Linked DNA regions of Homo sapiens. The protein of the gene in region 2 purifies or fractionates together with the protein of the main gene of each other region. This does not show direct contact. Each region holds a gene or a part of one and is shown on either strand. Other genes may lie near its edges.

Region 1 (3,747 bases), on a different chromosome or scaffold from region 2:
AGGGCCAATGTCAGGACACCTGGGGAAGGCGTGCCTGGATGACCCAGGAGTCAAAGTCACTGAAGGTGACTTTCACAAGCCAAAGCTGGGAAATTAGACTGGGGAGAGCAAGGGCCAGGCTCGGATTCTGGGCTGGATGCAGCTCACCCATGGGAAGAAGTTCTTGCATAAATTTCCTACCACCTGAGCACCTGTGTCTGCGACCTGTGAGTGGACAGAAGAACAAGTCTGAGGTCCCAGAGGTTTCTAGGTTTGGGGGAAGGAGACAGGGAGGATGTCTTTATGACCACAGCTGAGGCTGGGTTCAAGAGGCCTGGCTCCAATCGGTCAGTTCAAGTAGCCGAGGCAGGGCTGCTGGGACTCCTCTGCTGCTGCTCACACGGAGCTCAGCCCAGACCTGCAATTAGAGCTTTGCTTCAGGAGCAGAGCTGAGAAAATGGGGAGAGTTGCTAAGCAACCAAGGGGCTGCAGCCAATGGGCACCAAGGAGGCTGTGGGTTACCTCACTGGCTCCTTGCTCGCTCATTCGTTCAGAGGAGAAGGGGCATCAATTACCTGCCAAAGCCCTTGAGACTGGCTGGGCGGGTAAACTTGGGTGTATCCAAGGACACCTCACATCACCCACACACTTGCCCTGATCTGTTTCCCTTAGTCACCAACTGTCAGAGCCCACCCAGCACTTGAGCTTCAGGCTGCCAAGAGATCTGGGATTAGGTATCCACCTTAAGCTGGAAAGCCTGGGAAGCCAGGGGATAAGTATCATAATAACTCCCAACACAATAATGAAACCAAATACTGGCAACTGCCGTTTACAGAGTATATAGGAACCATGCTAAAAGCTTCACATTCTCTTATTTAATCCTCATACCGAAACAATCTTTTATTTTTTAAAATCAACCCAATATTTTATTTAAAGTTTCAAAAGGCAGTGATTAAGCACATTATCTATGTGTGTGTGTGTATCATATACATATAAATATATGTATGTATACACACACATATATATATAGGAAACCAACTCCTTTTCAAATTTAGCCACTGAACAACTAGGCCCACTTTCTATTGCATGATTCCAGTTCTACTTCTTATGACCAGTACTAAAAGTAAACAGCCTTAATCCATTTAATAGTAACTATGTTTCTCTTTAAAAAAATGAACAGTTGGCCAGGCATGGTGGCTCATACCTGTAATCCCAGCACTTTGGGAGGCGGAGGCAGATGGATCACCTGAGGTTAGGAGTTCAAGACCAGCCTGACCAACATGGCAAAACCCCGTTTCTACTAAAAATACAAAAATTAGCTGGGCGTGGTGATGCACGCCTGTAATCCCAGCTATTCTGGAGGCTGAGGCAAGAGAATCGCTTGAACCCGGGAGGCGGAGGTTGCAGTGAGCCGAGATTGTGCCACTGCACACCAGCCTGGGTGACAGAGTGAGACTCTGTCTCAAAATAAATAAATAAACAATTACCATTAACTGATCACATAAAGTATAAAGGTAGAACATATACACACAGTTCCCATTTTAAAACATGTAACGTATCAATAACCCAAAGGTACAAATGCATGCTACTGACCATCCCAACCCTAGCAGAGACCACAAAAGAACTCCCATTACTCAAGGAGTCAAAATATTCTCTACCGAACACCAGGGGCAGGACTTGTGCACATTATCCTGTTTAAACCTTTTCAACTCTGTGGGGTTGATATGATCATCCCCATTTTATTGATGAGGAAACGGAGCCTTAGGAATGGCTGATCCAAGATTTCAGATCTAATAAGTGAACCATCTGGGATTCAAACTTAGATGTGACTAATGCCAAGGCTTGAGTCATCAGCCACTCTTCCATGAAGTCTCTTTCAATGGTTTTCCCTTCCAATTCTGCCAAAGGTCCCAAAGCCCCATCTCTGAAATGTCAGCATCAGGACCTCCAGTCTCACTTCTTCTAATCCAGCTCATACCAAAAGTCTCAGTAGGCCATTTTCTCTGCTTATAATCCTTTAATATCTTTATATCGTCTTCAGGATGAAGATCAAAATCTTAAACTTGGCCAAGGTCCTGCATGATCTGGGCCCAGGTCTCCTATACCTCTGGCCCTTAAATCTTGCTGTCTAATCACATCTAATGATTTACAGATCACCAGACCCTCTGGGCTTTCACCCTTCCCTTGCTTGGGCTGGAATGTCCTCCCCATCCATCACTTCCATCTGGCTAACTCTTACACAGCTGGGTTGTCACTTCCTCTGCGAATCCTTTCACAGCCCTCAGACTCAGTGAAAGCCTCCTCTGGGTTCTTCAAGGCCCCTGCGTTCTCCATCAGAGGATTCATCATGTTGATTGTACTTGCCACTCATGTGTCCACTAGACTGTGAGCTCCTGAGACTGAAGCTAAAGCATTTGTCTCTGTGCTCCCAGAGCTCAGCACAGGGCCCAAAACAGGACATGCTCAATGAACATTTGCCAAACACTTCACTACACTCACTTCTTTAGGGCCCTTGAATATATCATGATGCTGCCCACAAGTCTTTGCACATGCTGTGGTTCCTAAAGCCTAGAACAATCCACCTTCCTCCCCCAATCCCTTCCAGCCCCACCCCTCCCAACTCAGGCAACTCCTACTTTCCTCCATTCACAAAATATCAAATGCTACCATGTGCCGAGCACAATGCGACAAAGTAAAATGACAGAGTCCCTGTCCTCACAGAGGTGAGAGAAATCATGTTATGGGCTAAGAAGGAAAAATACTGGGAGCTCTGAGGTAATATAAGAGAGAAGATCAAACTTAGCCTTAAGAATCCATGGAGGACTTCCCTATGGAAATGAAGTTTAAGCTGAGGCAAGGTGTCAAGTATATGTAATGAGCCAGAGGCTGAAAGGAACATGGGACATTCAAGGAATTAAAGAAACTGTGTGAGCGTGTAGAGAGCAAGGAGAGTAGCATGAGATGAGGCCAGTGATGCCATACTGTGCAGCACCATTATGAGTCACATTAAGGATTCTGAGCTTTAACCTAAGAGCATTGAGAAGCCACTGAAAGCTTCTGATCAGAAAGATTAGATCCCCATTTTCAAAAGATCACTGTGGCTGCTGGGACAATGAAGGGTACAAGAGTGAGGACAAGCTCTACAGTAATCTGGGGAGAGAGATGATGACAGCTTGGACTAAGGTGGTAGCAATGGAAATGGAAAAAAATAGATTTGCAATATGGTCAGGAGGGGAACAGCCAGGACTTGGTGACTAGTTGAGAGAAGGAAAAGAGAGTCAAATATTTTAATTGAATAACTGATAATTAGTTGTTTAATGTCTGCCTCCCTGTCTGAACCATGAGGACAGGGACCATGTCTTCTTTGGTTCCTTGCTGTATCTCCAGCATAGGACCAGGTATCAGTACACATTCAATTAATGTTTATTGAACAGATGGATGGATGGATGTGTGGCTGGCCAAAGAGGTTGTCTTCTGGGTGAGTGGGTACTAGCTCACCTCTGGGCATCAGGCTGTGAGATGGCATTCACAATGGCCTCCACACTGCTGTCGAAGAGCTCCGAGTCCTGCAGAGCAGCAAAGGCAGCCTGAATGAGCGCCTCACAGTCCTGCAGCGGCACCTCCAGCTGCACCCAGCTGGAGAAACACTTGAGCACCTTCTGACGCACACAGCTGGGTGAGCTGGGCTGCTGTAGCAGCTGCTCCAGCAGCGGGAAGACAGCCCCACATTCCACCGCCAGGCTGGTCCGCACCAGGCCTTTGCGGTAC
Region 2 (3,747 bases):
TTCCTCATGGGGACCCCATTCCCCAGGAATCCAGGTTCCACAGTACTCTGACTTGGTCTGGCTGGTCTCGGCTGGCACTTTCCCTAGGACTGCTAAAACCACGGTGAGGGCGGAGAGCTGAGGGCCGAAGAAGGCGGGGTGAGTGATGCTTGGGAGAGGGAGACAGGCTTGGCTGAAGCCCTGGGGAAGGGCTGAGGGCTGTGAAGGGGGCTGTGGAGGAGAGGTAAAAGGAGGGAGGAACACAGCCCTTGACAGGGCCTGTGAGGCAGGGGAGAACAGGGAGCAGGTACCGGTGGGACGGTGGCAGGGGAGGGGGGCCCATGACTTTGAGGGTGTCGTGTTGCATGTGCTGGGGGTGAGGACCCGGAGACTGGAGGAACAGGGCTCCAGGGCAGACGCATGGGCAAGCAGAGAGGACAGCCCATGGTAGATGGGAGGGGCACACAGGTGTGCTGTTTTCAGGTTGGCAGGAGAGGAGGAAGGTGTGTGCGGGGAGGCCCTGGAGACTGGAAGAGGAGAGGGGGCCCAGTGAGTGAGGGGCCCTTGTTAGAACCTGGGGGTGGGAAGGGGCCAAGGTGGGTGCCCTCCACCCCAGGCTGTCCCTCAGGCCTGTGCTGTGCCCCACAGTGCAGGCATCACCTGGCCCCACGAGAGAGCAGCTCATAGGTACGACTGACCACTCTGCCTGGCATGGTGGGGGCCTGCCTGTGCTGGCTCAAACCAGTTTTAGCCCCATGTTGCAGGTTAGGGAGTCAAGGCTGAGTGTCTGCTAACTTGTCTTAGGTCACTTGACCAGGGGACATTGGCCCTGGAGCTGGAAGTGAGACCGGGGAAACGGTCTCACTCCCTGGAAGACCGCCAGGGTGGGGAGTGTGACTCAGTCTCAGAGTTTGCCATGGAGTTGTCTCCCAGGCTCAGCACCCCCTCCTGGCCCTGGGGCCACTCCCTCATTTTAGGGGCCCATGTATGAAATGAGAATGTGCAGCCCCTTGCTCAAAAAGGAAGAGTTTCAGGACAGTGACGGCAGAGTGTTACTGGGCTCAGGGCCCTGAGTGACGGCAGGGGTGGCATATCTCATGGCACCAGGTGGGCCTGTGGTGCCTCCTGCCTCCAGCCCGGGGGCCTCAGCCTGGGCACTGCCCTCCACTTCCTGCCCGGGCCGAAGGGCGTGCCCCTCGCTCTCTCTGGGACTGAGACTCCATTTTAAACAGCTTTCTGGTTGGTTTCAGGTTTGCTGAGGTTTCTTCTCCCTTTCTGTCCCCCGTTTGAGGAGTTCTGATACTGATTGTTGCAGTTTGGTCTGAGATGGGCCCCGCTTCACTCTCTGTTGCCCTTTAGAAACACAAACTTCAGTCTAGACTCGCTGGTTCCTCACGACTCACTGGTCAGACGGCCACCGAGCCGGTGTCCGTAAGAGGAAAGGGCGTGGCATGGGCCGGGGCCTGGGCAGTGTTGGGTCCCGTGGCTGTGGGTGAGTCGAGCATCTAGGACAGGTCATAGGCCTCTGTGGAGGTGGCAGGTGGGCATGTGTGGCCTCGGGGAGGGCCTGTGGTGGCAGCGCCATGGCCAGGTGGTGGCAGTTTCCTTTGCATTAGCGCCACTCCATCCCTGGCCCGAGCCCTCTCCCAGGCATCTGGCTCCTCTATGGGTCAAGGCTGCCTAATGGTTAGGGGCAGCGGTGCTGTCATTGCAGCCTGGACTGCCGGCAAGCCACTTCCCCTCTGCAAGCCCCCATCAGAGGGACGAAACACCGCTTTGTGGGCTGCTGTGAATTCAGACTGTGGTCAGCCTTCGATGCACAGGTCAGACCATCACCAAAGAGATGGGACGAGACAGGCTGCTGCCTGTCTCCCTGGGCAGGGCTCCCCGCTGAGTGTTTCCTCTGCTTAGCCCTGGGCTCCCAGTCCACCCCACCCAGCCTGCCCCTTACCTCTAGCTGCTGGTCCGGGAGGAAGGGACAGGGGTCTGCGGGGCAGCAGGTGATCTCCGCCCGTGGGTGTCGGTGGTGGCAGGGGGCTCCTTGCCGCTGTGGGTGGAACGCTGGCTATTTAAGGAGAGGAAGGGAGACCACAGCCCCTCTGGCCCTGAAAGGCTGCTTCATTCCTGAGGGGTCCCTTGTTGTGTCGGGCTGCTCCTCTGGCTGCTGCTGCTGCTGCCACCGGAGCGTGAATATTCTAGTGTGTCCCTAGCCCATGCCCCCCGCCCCCAGCTTGGCCACATAGTCTGAGTGTGTGACTGTCTCAGAGACTCAGAGCAGGCGGGGGCTGGGTGGGGGGCTTGGGCTGGAGCTGAGGGACACAACAGGACGTTTCAGAAGGGGATGATTTCCTACTGATGGGGGGCAGGGAGGGGCCGGCTGTCATGGCAACAGGCGGCGCTCCCAGGCCTGCGCCCGCAGACGGCGGAGGGGGCCTGTGAACGGAGGGTGGGAGGCCGAGGAGTCTTGCTCACGGAGTGAGAGGCGACTCTTTGAGGACACTTGCTGTAGGGTCCTTGTGTCCTGCCCTGTATAATGAGGCCCCATTTGGGCACACAGAATAAATCATGGCCTTTATCTGGAGCGAGGAACAGCTGCAGGAGCCTCATAATGGGGCGCTGTCCTGTCCGTGAGGATGCGGCTCAGCTCAGAGGCCGGGTGCTCGCCGGTGCAGCTCCCCTTCTGCACGGAAGCCCATGAATCTGACCGCTGGCCTGGGGCTCCTCCCTGGGGTGGCTCCGGGCTGGGGTGCCTTTGAATGCTGCCGGCGGCCGCCTCTGAGACTGAGTGAACAAAGTTCATTTCTCTCTGTCTTTCTGAAAATGATACATCCAGCAACATGGGAAACCAAATCACCCTTCCTGGTTTCAAAAGACTTTACATTTTGTTGTTTAAACATTGAAAACTGTATGTATGTGGCTAGCATTTAAGGGGCAGTGTCTTAAATTTGTCTCTTCACATCACCCTGTGCAGCTGGGATTATTGCCCCATTTTACAGACAAGGAAACTGAGGCTCAGGCAAATGAAGAAACTCACCCATCAACAAACAGTAGGAAGCAACAGAGCCAGGATTTGAACCCAAGCACATGTCACTCCAGAACTTAGGCTCCGTGTGTGTGTGTGTTTTGTTTTTCTGCTGCATTTTGAATTTAGAATTCTTAGATTTGATCCTAATTCAACCTGAAAAAGAATTCTGAAGGCCACCTTTAGATCTGATGCTGTGATCTGGTCTGTTGAGAAGCTGTTTCCCATCTGGACTTCCTTCAAGAGAGATGGGCTTCCCAGTTTGTCTGGCCTGAGAGCCAGCTGGGTGTGAGGTGTCTGAGCCGGGGCGCAGGTCTCTTTCCTGTTGTGCCCGCAGGCGGCTGTCTGGAAGAACTGGCCCAGGCTGGTTGGAAAGGTGGTGGCTTGAAGCTAACCACCCTGAGCAGGGCATTTCTGGGCTCACAGACCTTCTGTTATTGGGGTGATCACTGTCGATGGCTTCAAGGGCATTGACCGTGGTGATGGAGTTTTGAGGCGTTGAGCTGATTCCTGCATCTTTGAGACAGAAATAATTCCTCGTGGGTTGAGTGTTGTCCTGACGCTCAGGAGGAGTCACCAGAATGTGGAGTGGGGTCATGGGGCCTACATGCTGAGTCTGGGACAGAGGCACCGCAGGGGGCATGGGCTGGCCGCCATAGGCGCCAGGTGGGGCAGCTCAGCCCCAGACCTGCTGAGGAGGTGGCCTGGGGTTGGGGCTGGGGCACAGGTGTCTGGGCAAGGGTGGG

What was found. Proteins that work in one complex are often made in the same cells at the same time.
Region 1: the proteins of GPR17 (region 2) and IPO13 purify together in Homo sapiens (co-immunoprecipitation; 2 studies listed by BioGRID and IntAct, with this or other methods). This does not show direct contact.

What each region holds. Positions count from the first base shown.
Region 1 is NC_000001.11:43,949,884-43,953,630, reverse strand, and holds part of IPO13 (importin-13), read right to left. Parts: coding exon 3,478-3,747; intron 169-3,477; exon of another isoform or gene 148-168; intron 1-147. UniProt on the Homo sapiens protein: Functions in nuclear protein import as nuclear transport receptor. Serves as receptor for nuclear localization signals (NLS) in cargo substrates.
Region 2 is NC_000002.12:127,644,428-127,648,174, reverse strand, and holds the start of GPR17 (uracil nucleotide/cysteinyl leukotriene receptor), read right to left. Parts: upstream 2,023-3,747; 5' UTR 1,931-2,022; intron 529-1,930; coding exon of another isoform or gene 431-528; exon of another isoform or gene 336-430; intron 139-335; exon of another isoform or gene 1-138. UniProt on the Homo sapiens protein: Dual specificity receptor for uracil nucleotides and cysteinyl leukotrienes (CysLTs). Signals through G(i) and inhibition of adenylyl cyclase. May mediate brain damage by nucleotides and CysLTs following ischemia.